Linked DNA regions of Homo sapiens. The protein of the gene in region 3 purifies or fractionates together with the protein of the main gene of each other region. This does not show direct contact. Each region holds a gene or a part of one and is shown on either strand. Other genes may lie near its edges.

Region 1 (3,500 bases), on a different chromosome or scaffold from region 3:
CCCGCGGGTAAAGGACACCCGTCTCCCAACAGAAACTGATCAATAAATTACAAAGTAGAGAAAAGGAAAGCGGACGTTTGGGGCGGGATTTCTTCCTCCCCGCTTCTTCCCCCTCTCAGTCCAGTTCATGTGGTTTGGTCCAGGCCCCGGCCCTGTGCGAGGCGGGCGCGCGCACTCCCGCTGGTCTGTACAGATGGTCCAGTCCTCGGCGCGAGCTCCCCCGCCCGCTCTCCCCGGCGAGGCCACAGTCCGGGCAGGAGAGGGAACAGCCCAGCCTCGGGAAGATTCTTCCGTCCGAGTGAGGTCACCTGCATGACGCCGGGCAGCGCGTGGAGCAGTGAAGATCCACCGTGCCGCCCCGCACCCCCAAGGTCGCCCAGCACGGTCCTCACCTGGAGGCCTGCACTAGCAGGAATAGGTCCGGACCGAAACGCCGTCTGCCCGGGAACTCCCAGAAGTCTGGCCTGGAGGGAGAGCGAGCAGCGGTTCAGCCTGGAGCACCCTCCTCCCTGTTCCTCTCCAGGATTCCTCCCTTTGGACTTCCCTTCCCGATGTCACAACGATCGCCGGGCTCCACATGGGTTTCCCTCCCTTCCCCGCAGCCAAGGACTCAAACTCGCATTGGGCGAGTTCACTCCCGCCCTGGGAAGGGGGAGTGGGATTTATCCATTTCATCCTGACGGGGGAGTCCGGAACGTTGGAGCAGTCCATTCCTCAGGGGTGGGCGAGAAAGGACTAGGCCATTCCAGAACCCGGACTACTGAGGTGGTCCATGCCCCACCCTAGGGAAGCGAGGAAGGGCTGTCGCATTTGGGAGCCCCCCACCTTCTGGCTGCAGCTTGCGGAGAGGGAGCCCCGGAGAGCCCAGGGCTCCCGCTGCAGCCGAACGAAAGTTGGGGGGCAACATCTCAGCTGAGTCGGGAGTTACGCCTCGGAGGTCCTTCTCCCGGAACATCTTCCGCCAGGATGGGGAGCGGCTGAAAGACTTGGCGCTGTCCTAGGTATAGGAGCCGGACAGCCGGTGAGGGACTCCTGCCTTGTCTGACTCCGCCCCTTCCTTTGACTCCACCCCTCTCCGGGTCTCACCTCTCCTTTAACCCCGCCCCTCTCCTGGCCCCGCCTCCAACCGTGACCATTAATAGTCAGGCCCCGCCCCCTCAGCTCAGCCTCTCGAGGAGCCGCTGGGAGCAGAGCCCTCTGAGCTGTTGCCGCGCCCACCTCGTCCAGCCGCCTGTCTGTGCCTAAGGAGATAAGGTTGCTGAATTCCTTCTCCAGAAGCTGCCGGGCCTGGAAAGAGGAGGTGGAGGGGGCGGTTGGAGCGTGCAGTCTGCGAGGTGGGGACGCCCAGCATGCTCCGGGCCCAGCGGCAGCTCACCTGTGCATTCTGCGTGGGGATCTGCAGGAGCAAGGCCAGGTCGGAGTAGTCGAAGGTCTCGTCCAGGGCGAGCAGTGCCCCGTGTACCCCGCTCTCCGTGAGGTTCGTGGCAAATTCCTTCAGGCCCAGCCCGGACACCCAACCCATGACCCGCTCATTGGACCACACCATCACGTCTGGGGACGGAAGGGACCCTCAGCCGTGCCCCTCCCGTGGCCTGGAGAGTTCAGTTTAGCCCATACCTCCACCTCCATTTGGTCTCTTCGGGCCACGCCCCCCACGCTGGCTCCACCCCCACGGTTATGGTGCCAATTTGCTTCTCCGGTCTCCCCCTACCCCCTCTCCTCCCCATCCAGCTCCACGCCCTCCACCTGGCTCCCAAAGGGACCCTTAGGCTCTACTCACCTCGGATCTGGGTCTGACTTTCTTCCCGCCTCCGCTCCAGGTCCTTCCGGTCATAGTTGAGCCGTTTCAGGCACATAATCCCATAATGTAGACTCACCCTGAGCAGCAGGGGAAGTGGAGTCACGGATGAGCTTTCCAGTCCCCTAGACTGCTGCTCCTACGGGTCCCTCCCCACTGGCTGCGCTCTTCTTGGAAAGGGTGGGGAGCTGATAAGTTCTATTGACTGTTGACCCCCTCAGGAGGTGAGGCATTTTCAATAATAGGCACTTCCTACTGGCCAGCCTGGAAGGGGTCCAGGGTTAACTAGCCAAGCCATTTCAGGATCTGAACTTTTCCTGTGGACCATCTCATTGGTGAAAGGAGCACAGAGTCAGGATTTCCTGAGAACTCAGGCTAAAAGGGCCAAGATAAGCCTGGGAATCTCCCATGGCCAATCCTATTGGCCAAAGACTCTCTGGGGTGGGGCTTCCCTTTGGACTGTCCCCACTGGCCAGGCAGCCCCCACCTGTGAAAGCTGTCCACCATCTTGAGTTGGCCCCGGAGCTCCTTCTTGTTAAGGTGATCTAACATTCGAGCGTCCACCAGCGACTCCATGAAGTAGCTGCGGTATTGGGGCAGCCCCAGGCTGGGCAGCCAGTCGTTCCCCACCCACTCGTGGTTCATGTCGCCATATGCCAGGATCTGGGGCCATGGGCAGGTGAGGGAAGAGTCAGGCCCTCTGGCCCCTTCCCACTGTGCATGAGAGGGGTACAGTCCAACCTCCCAATCCAAGGTTTTTTCCCACCCCATGGTAGGACAATGACCAATCTCTGCTCAGGATAATGGACCAATCCAGAGTTGTCTCCTAGCCCTTCATGACAGCATATACTCTTGGCTACTCAAACAGTTGTCCTGAGACCTAGAGCGTCACCATCACCTGTGGACTTGCTGGAATTGCAGAATCTCAGACCTTACTCCAGACCTACTGAAGTCGGTATCGGCATTTTCACAAGACCCTCAGGTGATTCGAAATATACATTATATTTATTTTTAAATTTCTTTCTTTCTCTCTTTCTCTCTCTCTCTCTCTCTCTCTCTTTCTGAAAGAGTCTGCTATGTCACCCAGGCTGGAGCGCGGTGGCACGATCTCGTCTCACTGCAACCTCCCCATCCCAGGTTCAAGCAATTCTCTTGCCTCAGCCTTCGAGTAGCTGGGATTACAGGTACGAGCCACCACGCCCGGCTAATTTTTGTATTTTTTAGTAGAGACGGCGTTTCACCATGTTGGCCAGGCTGGTCTCAAACTCCTGACCTCAAGGGATCCGCCCACCTCAGCCTCCCAACGTGCTGGGATTACAGGCATGAGCCACCGCGCCTGGCTGTATTTGTTTATTTTTTAGAGACAGGGTCTTACTATGTTGCCCAGGTTGACCTCAGCTTCGTGGGCTCAAGCGGTCCTCCTGCCTCAGTCTTCCAAGTAGCTGAGACTACAGGTGTGTGCCACCCCACTACACATTAAATTTGGGGAAGCACTGCTTTAACTCTGTCTCACTGCAGTCCAACGTCACTAAACCCCCAAGTCAGGACAATGGACTCTTTCAAGGCAGCTCTCCCACTAAGAAAGGGCCATCACTCTTGCAATGTCCTGAAAATACTTGTCTAATGTTATATCTGGCCCAGGACAATATTCCAGATGAGTCCCAAGTCCCTCACTCCTTTCAGCATCAGCACAAAATCCACG
Region 2 (3,500 bases), on a different chromosome or scaffold from region 3:
TGTGAAACGAGGGCTGTTACCATCCTTTCCACTTGCTTATCACCACCTCCAGTGCCAGCCCCTTCCCTGCCCTCTGGCCCACCAGGGCCATCCTCCACCAGGCCATCCCTGCCCCCAGACGCCCCGCTGCTGGGCACATATACCAGGCGCCCTTCCTCTGGGCTTCAGCGTTTGTCATGTGCAGCCTACACTTGCCCTTCCTCATCTTCATTCATTCAGTGTTTATTTGACACCTACTGGCTGGAGACACAGTGCTAGGCAAATCCCATGCAGAGCTGCCTCTTCAGGAGAGCCCAGTTCAGTGGTGGAGATAAACACCCAATGAGAGCACGAGGTCACACAGATGTGTGCACAGACATGGTGACAGTGCTGGGTGGCCCAAGTTATGTGCAGCCAGACATGGTGACAGTCCTGGGTGGCATGTGTCCTATGTACACAGGCATGGTGAGAGTCCTGGGAGGCATGTGTCCTATGTACACAGGCATGGTGACAGTCCTGGATGGCATTTGTCATGTGTGCAAACATGGTGGGTGGCACATGTTGTACACACATAGACATCATGACAGTTCTAGAGGCTACATGAATCCAAAACCAGAGTGCCAGGAACATTTTCCCCAAACATGACATTCTCCATAACCCACACCTTCTGTCTTCTCTGATGTATAGACACACTGGTAGGAGTGTTTCACAGCCGGCCTGAAGACCCAACCAGAAGGACAGAGAGGCCCAGGAGAAAATGAGAAGGGGTCCTGGGAAGCTATGGCTGCCACAAGGGGGTCCTCAGACTGGTGCTGAGCTGGCTCAAAAGAATCACTTGGGGAGCTTTTGAAAAATCCTGAGTTCTGGACCAAGATTCTAACTTATTGTGTCTAGGGAGGGGCTTGGAAACCTGTATTTGTAAAAAACATCCCTGGGTGATCCTGTAAAACATGTGGCCAGGTTTGGGAACCTCCCCCTTGGAGTCTCTCTTCTTCTAGTGGCCAACCCCCACCCCCACTCGGAGCACCACCTCTCGGTGAGAGTAGCTGGGACCCCTCAGACTGGGTTGGGTTGGGCTGGGCTGGGCAGCCAGCAGGTCAATGGCAATGACAAGAGTGGGATGGAGGAGGAAGCCAGACGGGGTAGGTGGCCTTGGGGTGTGTGGGTGAGTCAGCCCCATGCCAGCCACTGGTGGTGTCAGGTGGCAGCCGCACTCTTGTTGCCATGACAACTCCTCCCCCGGAAGACAGGGAGGCCGTTGGACGAGTTTCCGCTCAGAGCGGAGAGCCCAGGCCCTGGGCTGCAGGGAAGAGTAGGAGCCAAGGCAGGCAGAGAGCACACCAGGGAGAATGGGCGGCTGCAGAAACCAGCAGCAGCGGGTGGAGGGAACCTGCTTCAGGGAACAGGCAGATGAGATAATGGGAGTAACAGGTGGCAGGTGGAAGGAACAGGTGGAGAGGGAGCAGAGGGGAATAATAGACTGGGAACAGGTGTGGGAAATGACAGTGGAAATCAAAGAAGACACAACAAGGGCATGACAGGTAAGGGAGAGGTAGGCGGAGAAAGGAGTGGCAAGAGCGAGAGTGCCGAAGGATGAAGGGACATGACCCGGGGGCTGAGGCCAGAGAGGGAAGCTGTTTTAGTCAGCTCAGCCAGTCCAGGGGCCAGTGAAGCGTCTCTATGCTTGGGGGGAAGAGCTGGGGAAAGTTCTGAATGGCCTGGAGCCTATTCTTGAGGCTGGATGTGGGGACCAGGGAATTGATAGAGTGCTCTGGGTCTCCCACTTAGAAAGAAAAGTCAGTCTTCCCATAAAGTTAAAGGGCTCTTCATGACGAGCTGACAAAGCCTCCTCCAGCATCCCCCCACCTCGACCCTCCTCTGACCTCACCTGCCAGAGCCTTAATGCGAGACCTCTCAAAGAGGCGGGCCGAGCTGCTGTCATTGTCCCAGTCCGAGTCAGGAAGGTCCCAGCGGTTGTTGATGTCACTGTACTGGCCCTGGATTTCCAAGCTGTCAAAGTCTGTGGGTGACAGCGTGCTGCTCATGGTGGTAGGCGGCTTCCTGCTCCTGCAAGGAGAATGTGGCCAGTGAGGGGTGTCCAGGGACCACCAAGCCCTCCACTCACCACCGGGGCCTTCTGTCTTCTTGCCCTACCTGTGCTCCGCTCTCCTTGTGGCCAGAGGCTGCGGTTGGCTGCTCAGTGGAAATCAGCCCCCAGGGGAAGAGGGGAAGCCACCTGGGAAGCCTGGGGACGGGAATACATCAGAAGCACAGAAAGTGAAGCAGGAAGGCAGCAGCAGCTCAGAGCAATGCGGTGGTCAGGAAAGGCTCCAACGACTTCGGGCCAGAGAGGGACGGGTTTGCGGGGTGAAGAAAGGGGTGATGGGCTTCAGTGCTTCAGACAGCAGTGTGCAGCCCAGGGTAATGCAGGCAGCACATATGGGGCCCCACAGGCAATAATGACTAGAAAGTGGCATTCTTTCCTTCTACAAACTGTTTTGAGCCCATGATCAACCCAAGATGGCCTACTATACCCTGTAGGCAAGTTGAGAGAAAAAGACCCAGATTTGTTGGGCGCGGTGGCTCACGCCTGTAATCACAGCACTTTGGGAGGCCGAGGTGGGTGGATCACCTGAGGTCAGAAGTTCAAGACCAGCCTGACCAACATGGTGAAACCCTATCTCTACTAAAAATACAAAAAATTAGCTGGGCGTAGTGGCAGGCGCCTGTAATCCCAGCTACTCAGGAGGCTGAAGCAGGATTATTGCTTGAACCTGGGCGCACCTTAGAGCGAGACTAGTAGAAAAAAAAAAAGACCTAGATTCTGCTCTTGAGTTAAGAAAAAGTTATGATACGCCAGGAAGACTGACACACTGTTTAGCAAGTGCCCAGGAGTTCAAAGGAGGACACAGTATGCTTCTCTCCGCTTTGTTTCCTTTGGTTTGCCACAGAGAATGTTAGTAAGTACTCAATAAATGTCGGCTGTGACATATCCCTGCCATTGACATGCATCACGTCACCATAACTCCCTGTGGGGTGAGGGCCCACTGTTGTCCCCATTTCATAGATGAGGAAGCTGCACAAAAGATATTAAGTTGGCTGGGCGCGGTGTCTCACGCCTGTAATCCCAGCACTTTGGGAGGCCAAGGCGGGCGGATCACAAGGTCAGGAGATCGAGACCATCCCTGGCTAACACGGTGAAACCCCGTCTCTACTAAAAAATACAAAAAATTAGCTGGGTGTGGTGGTGGGTGCCTGTAGTCCCAGCTACTCGGGAGGCTGAGGCAGGAGAATGGCGTGAACCCAGGAGGCGGAGCTTGCAGTGAGCCGAGATCTCGCCATTGCACTCCAGCCTGGGCGGCAGAATGAGACTCTGTCTCAAAAAAAAAAAAAAAAAAAAAAAAGACATTAAGTTGGCTGGGGGCATTGGCTCACACCTGTAATCCCAGCACTTTTAGGAGGCCAAGGCGGGTGGCTCACCTGAGGTCAGGAGTTTGAGACCAGCCTGGCCAACATGGTAA
Region 3 (3,953 bases):
AGAGAAGGTGGTAGGGCTCCAGCTCTCTGCTGTCATCTCCAGTGATTCTATTCTGGCCCCAACCTTGTGCACCCTGAGCAGCAAAACAAAAACCCTCCCTCAGATCCAGGGAGTGCCTGTCAATGCTAATGCATGCCCCTTGCAGGGGAAGGGGGCTGACCCGCTCCCCAAGCACTTCATCACAGCTTGCTTTCTAAGCACATCCAGAGTTCACCCTCCCTAGGAGAAGTCTCCCCGTCCTGCCCTCTGTCCTCTTTCATCCCCATGGGGAGCAGAGAGAGAGCTCCTGTGTTGCCTCCCTGATCCTTACCATGTCCCACATCAGCGTAGAAGTTAACAGCATGGACTTTGGGTTCCACCGGAGCTTGATTCCATTCTTGAGTGGAATGGAACCTAAGCTACTCCATTCCTTGGTTTTCTGATCTGTAAGATGACGGCAATAATACCAACTGTACCAGATTGTTTTGAGGATTTAAGGAGATGACTACGATGCACAGTGTGACGCATGATGTTGCTGTCATCACCCCAGGTTCCAGCGGCTTGTTTAGAGGCTGTTTCACTCATTTAATTGGAAGCTCCTTGAAGATCAGAATGGTCTTTTCCAGACATTCCCCCTAGGATACTAAGGACACAGTAGATATTCAGTAACTATTTAGGGATGTCTCTTGAATGTATACCCATTTTTATCAGCCACGTTTTTTTCCTTCCAGAAATGCAGGATGTTAATATCTGAGAGGAGCTGCTGTTAGCATGTAGGAAGCACCAGGTGGTGAACAGAGCAGGGGCCTCCCAGTGGGACAGGGGAAGAAGGACACTATGATAAATCGTGTTAATTTTCTAGGCCCCAGTTTCCTTATTGGGAGAATGGAGAGATTGATAGATACCATTACAAGGTTGTGGCGAAGGTTTTCATAAACTATGCTTAACACGCTGCCAAGGACACAGTAAGGGCTGAGAAACAGCAGCTGCTATTATTACTATCAATTTAAGAGTTATTGTTAAAGAAGTGAAACTGAACGCGCTTAGGTGTGCGCTCAAAGCCAGCAACCTGGCTGGGTCCGCACGGAGACAGGCGGGGCAGCGCGGGGAGGGGCCACCGGAAGCCCCACCCCTTTCCTCGCGTCCGGTCGCCCGGGCAACGCGCCACCGCGTCGCAGCCGGAGTGACGCGTGGCCGCCGGCACCCGGAGCTCCTGGGCACACGGCATTGGCAGGGGCCGCTTCGGCAGAGTGATGACTGATGATGAGTCCGAGAGCGTCCTCTCCGACTCCCATGAAGGGTCGGAGCTGGAGCTGCCTGTTATCCAGCTGTGCGGGCTGGTGGAGGAGCTCAGGTACCGCCGCCCGCGCCTGGGGGCCGCCCCTCTTCCTCCTAGGCCCTCCTCTCCGGGCGGCCTCGGACTTGGGGACCAGCATGGAGAAGATCCAAGCCCTCACTGAGCACTGGGGAGACTTTTCCTCTTTACTCCTTACTCCACCACCACTGAGCCAACAAGCTGTTGGTGGAGCTAGAACGGGGTGGTAGGGCGAGGGGATGGGGCCGGTGGTGAGAAGCCCAGAGGGTAATTGGGGAAGTGAGGGTTTCAGCCGGAGGAGTCTCTCTCATGCCAGACGGTGTGCTTAGCCGATCCACAATTCTACAGCAGCAATTTGGACCAGGTGACTTCTAAGCCCTTTTCTGATGCTAAGATTCTATGATAAGGCTGGGCGCGGTGGCTCACGCCTGTAATCTCAGCACTTTAGGAGGCCGAGGCGGACGGATCGCTTGAGGTCAGGAGTTCGAGACCAGCCTGGCCAACATGGTGAAACCCCGTATCTACTAAAGATACAAAAATTAGCCAGGCGTGGTGGCGCGTGCCTGTAATCCCATCTACTCTGGAGGCTGAGGCAGGAGAATCACTTGAACTTGGGAGGCGGAGGTTGCAGTGAGCCGAGATTGTGCCACTGCACCCCAGCCTGGGCAACAGAGAGGGACTAAGTCTCAAAAAAAAAAAAAAAAAAAATTATATGATAAAACTAACACGGCAGCAGAATAGAAAGCAAGCTATTGAGATGGTTTTAGTATGAGGCAATGTGTGCCTGAACCTGGATATAAGCATGGAGATGGACAGTAAAGAATGGCCCGATAGTCTGCGTTTATTTTGTTTTATTTTATTTTGCAGTCTGCTTTATATATTCTACTATAGCAAGTAAATTGGATATAAAGATTCCATGATGTAGTTAAGATTAGTTGTACAACTTACTGGTCTTGCACAGAATATCCTAGCTCTAGCAGCTGAATAGATGTTACTTCTATACATCTACAAATACTTTAGGTCAGAACTGAGGTATTATTACTAACAGCTCTCATTTTTGAGTGTTTCTATGTACCATGCATTTACATATATGATCTTATATGATGACACTGCAACCCTAGGAAGTGGGTAAGGAAACAAAGACGCAGAGGTGAAGTCACTTCCCTAAGTTCACACAGTCAGTGGTAGTGCTGGGATTCAAACTCAGGTGTGACTCCACAGACTACATACACCTGGAGCATGCTCTATGCTGAAAAAGCAAGCTACTTTGATAGATTGTGTTTTCCATTCAGCTTTTTCCACTAGTTTGTTTTGTTTTGTTTTGTTTTTGATACGGAATCTCACTCGCTCTGTCGCCCAGGCTGAAGTACAATGGCATGATCTCGGCTCACTGCAACCTCTGCTTCCCAGGTTCAAGTGATTCTCCTGCCTCAGACCCCTGAATAGCTGGGATTACAGGCACCTGCCACCACACCCAGCTAATTCTTGTACTTTTAGTAGAGATGGGGTTTCACAATGTTGATCAGGCTGGTCTCGAACTCCTGACCTCAGGTGATCCACCTGCCTCGGCTTCCCAAAGTGCTGGGATTACAGGTGTGAGCCACCACACCTGGCCCCACTAGTCTTAAAATTCAGCCAAACAGGAATTATTAAAAGTAATAGCAAAAACTGCAATTACTTTTGTACCAACCTAATAGATTAATAACACATGAAAACATCAAAGCTGTTCTCTCTCTCATATACATATACATACATATGTGTGTGTAACACACACACACATACACACGTATGAGAAGTTAAGAAGTTAAAAAGGTTATAACCTTGGCATATACAGGATAAACTAGGTATGTTATCTCTTCCTCTGTTCAAAGTTTTCCAGAGTTTATGATAAACTTCTGGTTGATACTTTTCATCTATTGGGTACTGAAAATAAAAGAACTGAAAAACAAACCAAAGGAAACATCTGAAGATTGTGGGTGTGTTTAACTTCAAGAATATAGTAATTCAGGTTGGGCACAGTGGCTATTATTGCCTATAATCTCAGCACTTTGGGAAACCAAGGTGGGAGGATCACTTTAGGCCAGGAGTTCATGGCCAGCCTTGACAACATAGCAAGATACCACCTCTACAAAAAAAATTATAAATTAGCCAGGCATGGCATTGTGCACCTGCAGTCCTAGCTACTTGGGAGGCTGAGGCAGGAGGATTGCTTGATCCCAGGAGTTCCAGGTTACAGTGAGTGCAACAGAGTAAGACCCTGTCTCTTAAACAAATAAAATATATATATGTATATATATAATATATAGTAATTCAGAAATAATCTCCCACATGGGTTCAATGATACTTGAAGATGAAACCTATGAGAATTTTCAATGTAATACTAGTGTTCTGAATTTTGTGGCTCATTAAACATATTAATAAAAATATCAAATATATAGCACTTACTATGTGTCAGGCACTGTGCCAGAGGCTTTGTCTTCCTTATTGGAACCCTAAAAGTTAAGTGCTATTCTTAATACCCATTTTATAGGTGAGGAAACTAAGGCACCAAGGGGCTAACGGGTTTTGCAGGTCTACTAGTTATTAAACACTAGTTATTTGAGGTTTAAACTCTTATTACTAGAACTTACTCAGGTACCCTGTCTTGCAGCTATGTAAA
Region 4 (3,500 bases), on a different chromosome or scaffold from region 3:
AGGAGGCGGAGGTTGCAGTGAGCTGAGATCGTGCCACTGCACTACAGCCTAGGCGACAAGAGTGAGACTCTGTCTCAAAAAACAAACCAAACAAACAAAGCATGAACTTTTGAATCATACAAGCTGATTCGAGTGTAGTGAACTCTGTCGTACAGTGTGACCTTGGACACAACTCTACTCTGAAAAGCCAGCCTGTGGCATTACCTGATTGACTGCATCAGGCCAGTTCTGAGTCTCCAGGCAGAAACCGGAGTGCTTGGGATAGACAGCTCCATTCTTGCCCTTTAATGTGCCATCCAGGAAGTTGCCCGTGTAAAACTGGACCCCGGGCTGGGTGGTGTATACTTCTAGTACCCGCCCGCTTGCAGCATGATGCACCCTGGTAAGAAATACAAACAACATGAGTCCAGGGCAGAAAAGCAGGTGGGGAGGAGTAGAAGCTGGGAAGCGGCTTTGAGACAGGAATCAGACCCAGCCACAGAGCAGGGACAAGATATAAGGAGGAGATGAAGGTAGGAAGAGCATGATGGAAAATTCTTCCAGTCTCAAAGGCAAGGCATGAGCAGGTGGCTTTCAGGATCCTCAGTAGCTTCTTTGGGGCATCACAAAACAGACTCACTCCTGCCAGCTGGGGAGTAGGGAGGAAGGCAGCAGCCAGGTTGGAGAGAGGAAGGTCCTGGAGAGGCTGAGATTCTTTTTTTTTTTTTTTTTTTTTTTGAAATAGAGTCTTTCTCTATTGCCCAGGCTGGAGTGCAGTGGCGCGACCTCGGCTCACTGCAACCTCAGCCTCCCGGGCTCAAGCAATTCTCCCACTTCAGCTCCCCAGTAGCTGGGACTGCAGGTGCGCACTACCATGTCCAGCTAATTTTTGTTTGTTTGTTTGTTTTGAGATGGAGTCTGGCTCTGTCACCCAGGGAGGAGTGCAGTGGTGCGATCTTGGCTCACTGCAACCTCCGCCCCCTTGGTTAAAGCAATTCTCCTGCCTCAGCCTCTAGAGTAGCTGGGATTACAGGTACCTGCCACCACATCCGGCTAATTTTTTGTACTTTTAGTATTGTCGGGGTTTCATCATGTTGGCCCAACTGGTCTTGAACTACTGACCTCAGGTGATCTGACCACCTCAGCCTCCAAAAGTGCTGGGATTACAGGCATGAGAGCCACTGCACCTGGCCTGAGATTCTTTTTTTTTTTTTGAGATGGAGTTTTGCTCTGTTGCCTAGCCTGGAGTGCAGTGGCGTGATCTCGGCTCACTACAACTTCCACCCCCTGGGTTCAAGTGATTCTCCTGCCTCAGCCTCCTGAGTAGCTGAGATTATAGGTGCCCACCACCATGCCTGGCTAATTTTTATATTTTTAGTAGAGACGGCGTTTCACCATGTTGGCGAGGCTGGTCTCAAACTCCTGACCTCAAGTGATCTGCCCACCTCAGCCACCTAAAGTGCTGGGATTACAGGCATGAGCCACCACGCCCAGCCCGGAGAAGGTCTTTGATCTTCTTTCTGTCACTATTTGGTTTGAGTCATTTTTTCTGCTTTATTTAAAAACTGTTGACCGGGTGCAGTGGCTTACACCTGTAATCCCAGCACTTTGGGAGGCCGAGGTGGGTGGATTACAAGGTCAGGAGTTCAAGACCAGCCTGACCAACATTGTGAAACCCCATCTCTACTAAAAATACAAAAATTAGCTGGGCATAGTGGCACGTGCCTGTTATCCCAGCTACTCAGGAGGCTGAGGCAGGAGAATCACTTGAACCCGGGAGGCGGAGGTTGCAGTAAACCTAGATCGCACCACTGCATTCCAGTCTGGGCGACAGAGCAAGACTCCGTCACACACACGCACACACACAAAACTGTTAATTCTGCAAACATTTATTCATTATTTGCTAGTGCCAAGGATGATATTAGGTGTTGGGGTAGAGGTAGGGCTTCACAAAGATGAAATGGCATGAGGAACTGGGATTTGGTGAGAAGGCGAGAGCGTGCACACAAGTGTCTATCGGTCAAGGCTGGAGGCGGTGAGTGCTGCAGGAGATGCCTAGCCTCCAACTGGCCATGGAGTAGGCAGGCATAAGTCACAGATCGAGAAAGCACAAAGGCTCTGGAAGTTCAGTGACAGCCGAGGTGACTTCACTAGGAAGAGTTAAGGCTTCTAACAGAAAATGGGCCTTAAAGAACAGGCAGAGAGGGAGAGAGCGGGTGCCAAGCAGGGGGAATAGGGGTAATGGCAGGTGGGGGACTGGGATAAATTCTACAGAGCTCACCTGTGCCATGGGAGCTTTGAGAAAATATGGGATGTGGTATTGGGTCACTTGTAGCATAGTAAATGCTATTGATATGGCCAGAGGAAAAGCTCCAAAGGAAAATAGGACTTGGTGTCATTTCTTCCTTACAGACTCAGGAAGTGAAAAGTACCTGACCTTGCACAAAAATGCTTTTCTTTAGATCCCTTCAGACAGAAATTGTGGTCAAAACCATTGAGATGGAAGTCCTGCAGGTGTTTTCCAAGCTCCACTGGCTTTCTCAGGTCGAATGCAGTGCCTTGCACTGGGGCAACTTCTCCTGATGGGAAGAGACAGAAAACAAAGGTGATAAATGCCCAAGTCTCATCTTTATATAGAGCCTCCACAAAGGCTCACTGGTTCTACTCTCTCCGCCTTCATTTTAATTTGTTAAGGAGATGGGAGCCCAGATCCTGGGAAACATGCAGAGACCCCATCTCTACCAAAATAATAAAATAAATAAATAAATAAATGTAAAAAATTAGCCAGGCATAGTGATGTGTCCCTGTGGTCTCAGCTACTCAGGAGGCTGAGGCAGGAGGATTGCTTGAGCCCAGGAGGTCGAGGCTACAGTGAACCATGATTGCACCACTGCACTCCAGCATAGGTAACAGAATGAGACTGTCTTAAAAAACAAATATGGAGAGGGTGGGGAAGAGAAAAAAAAAACCCTCAAATAAATAGAGTATATGGGAGTATGGGCTCAGGTTATATGCAAATACTGCACCATTTTATAGAAGGAACTAGAGTATCTAATGATTTAAGTATCAGTAGGGGGTCCTGGAACCAATCCTCCATGGATTCCAAGGGACAATGGAAAATATATACTCATAAATATATAGTAACATATACATAAAAGCCAGAGTTGTTCTAGCTGAATCAAGTACAGGTTCTGAGCAGCGCAGGTGGAAAACCCCAGGATAAGATGATGGCAGAGGTCCACTTCCTCTTAAAATTATGGCCCACCCAGGAGTAGTAACAGCCAGGTGCTAGAACCTTGTACCAAGTACAGAGAATACCAGTTTCCTCTGTAGCAGGCCAAATCACTCCAGCCATTTTTTCTTGAAGAGGAAAAGAAAAGGGCTCTGTTTCAGAGGCTTAAACAATGTTACGGTTGAGTTTTTGTTTTGTTTTGTTTTGTTTTGTTTTTTGAGATGGAGTCTTGCTCTGTCACCCAGGCTGGAGCGCAGTGGCGCGATCTCAGCTCAGTGCAACCTCCGCC

What was found. Proteins that work in one complex are often made in the same cells at the same time.
Region 1: the proteins of CFAP263 (region 3) and PPFIA3 purify together in Homo sapiens (affinity purification with mass spectrometry; one large-scale study listed by BioGRID and IntAct). This does not show direct contact.
Region 2: the proteins of CFAP263 (region 3) and SPTBN2 purify together in Homo sapiens (affinity purification with mass spectrometry; one large-scale study listed by BioGRID and IntAct). This does not show direct contact.
Region 4: the proteins of CFAP263 (region 3) and GALM purify together in Homo sapiens (affinity purification with mass spectrometry; one large-scale study listed by BioGRID and IntAct). This does not show direct contact.

Annotation. Positions count from the first base shown.
Region 1 is NC_000019.10:49,147,044-49,150,543, reverse strand, and holds part of PPFIA3 (liprin-alpha-3), read right to left. Parts: intron 2,462-3,500; coding exon 2,286-2,461; intron 1,879-2,285; coding exon 1,781-1,878; intron 1,552-1,780; coding exon 1,376-1,551; intron 1,288-1,375; coding exon 1,219-1,287; intron 998-1,218; coding exon 826-997; exon of another isoform or gene 465-825; coding exon 406-464; 3' UTR 393-405; exon of another isoform or gene 309-392; 3' UTR 1-308. UniProt on the Homo sapiens protein: May regulate the disassembly of focal adhesions. May localize receptor-like tyrosine phosphatases type 2A at specific sites on the plasma membrane, possibly regulating their interaction with the extracellular environment and their association with substrates.
Region 2 is NC_000011.10:66,719,217-66,722,716, forward strand, and holds part of SPTBN2 (spectrin beta chain, non-erythrocytic 2), read right to left. Parts: exon of another isoform or gene 2,225-3,500; 5' UTR 2,134-2,224; intron 2,047-2,133; 5' UTR 2,025-2,046; coding exon 1,868-2,024; intron 1-1,867. UniProt on the Homo sapiens protein: Probably plays an important role in neuronal membrane skeleton.
Region 3 is NC_000016.10:58,248,783-58,252,735, forward strand, and holds the start of CFAP263 (cilia- and flagella-associated protein 263), read left to right. Parts: upstream 1-1,153; 5' UTR 1,154-1,232; coding exon 1,233-1,333; intron 1,334-3,944; coding exon 3,945-3,953. UniProt on the Homo sapiens protein: Component of centriolar satellites contributing to primary cilium formation. In complex with CFAP263, acts as a regulator of ciliary beating that connects radial spoke 3 (RS3) to the inner dynein arm (IDA) and the nexin-dynein regulatory complex (N-DRC).
Region 4 is NC_000002.12:38,728,614-38,732,113, reverse strand, and holds part of GALM (galactose mutarotase), read right to left. Parts: intron 2,559-3,500; coding exon 2,417-2,558; intron 380-2,416; coding exon 205-379; intron 1-204. UniProt on the Homo sapiens protein: Mutarotase that catalyzes the interconversion of beta-D-galactose and alpha-D-galactose during galactose metabolism.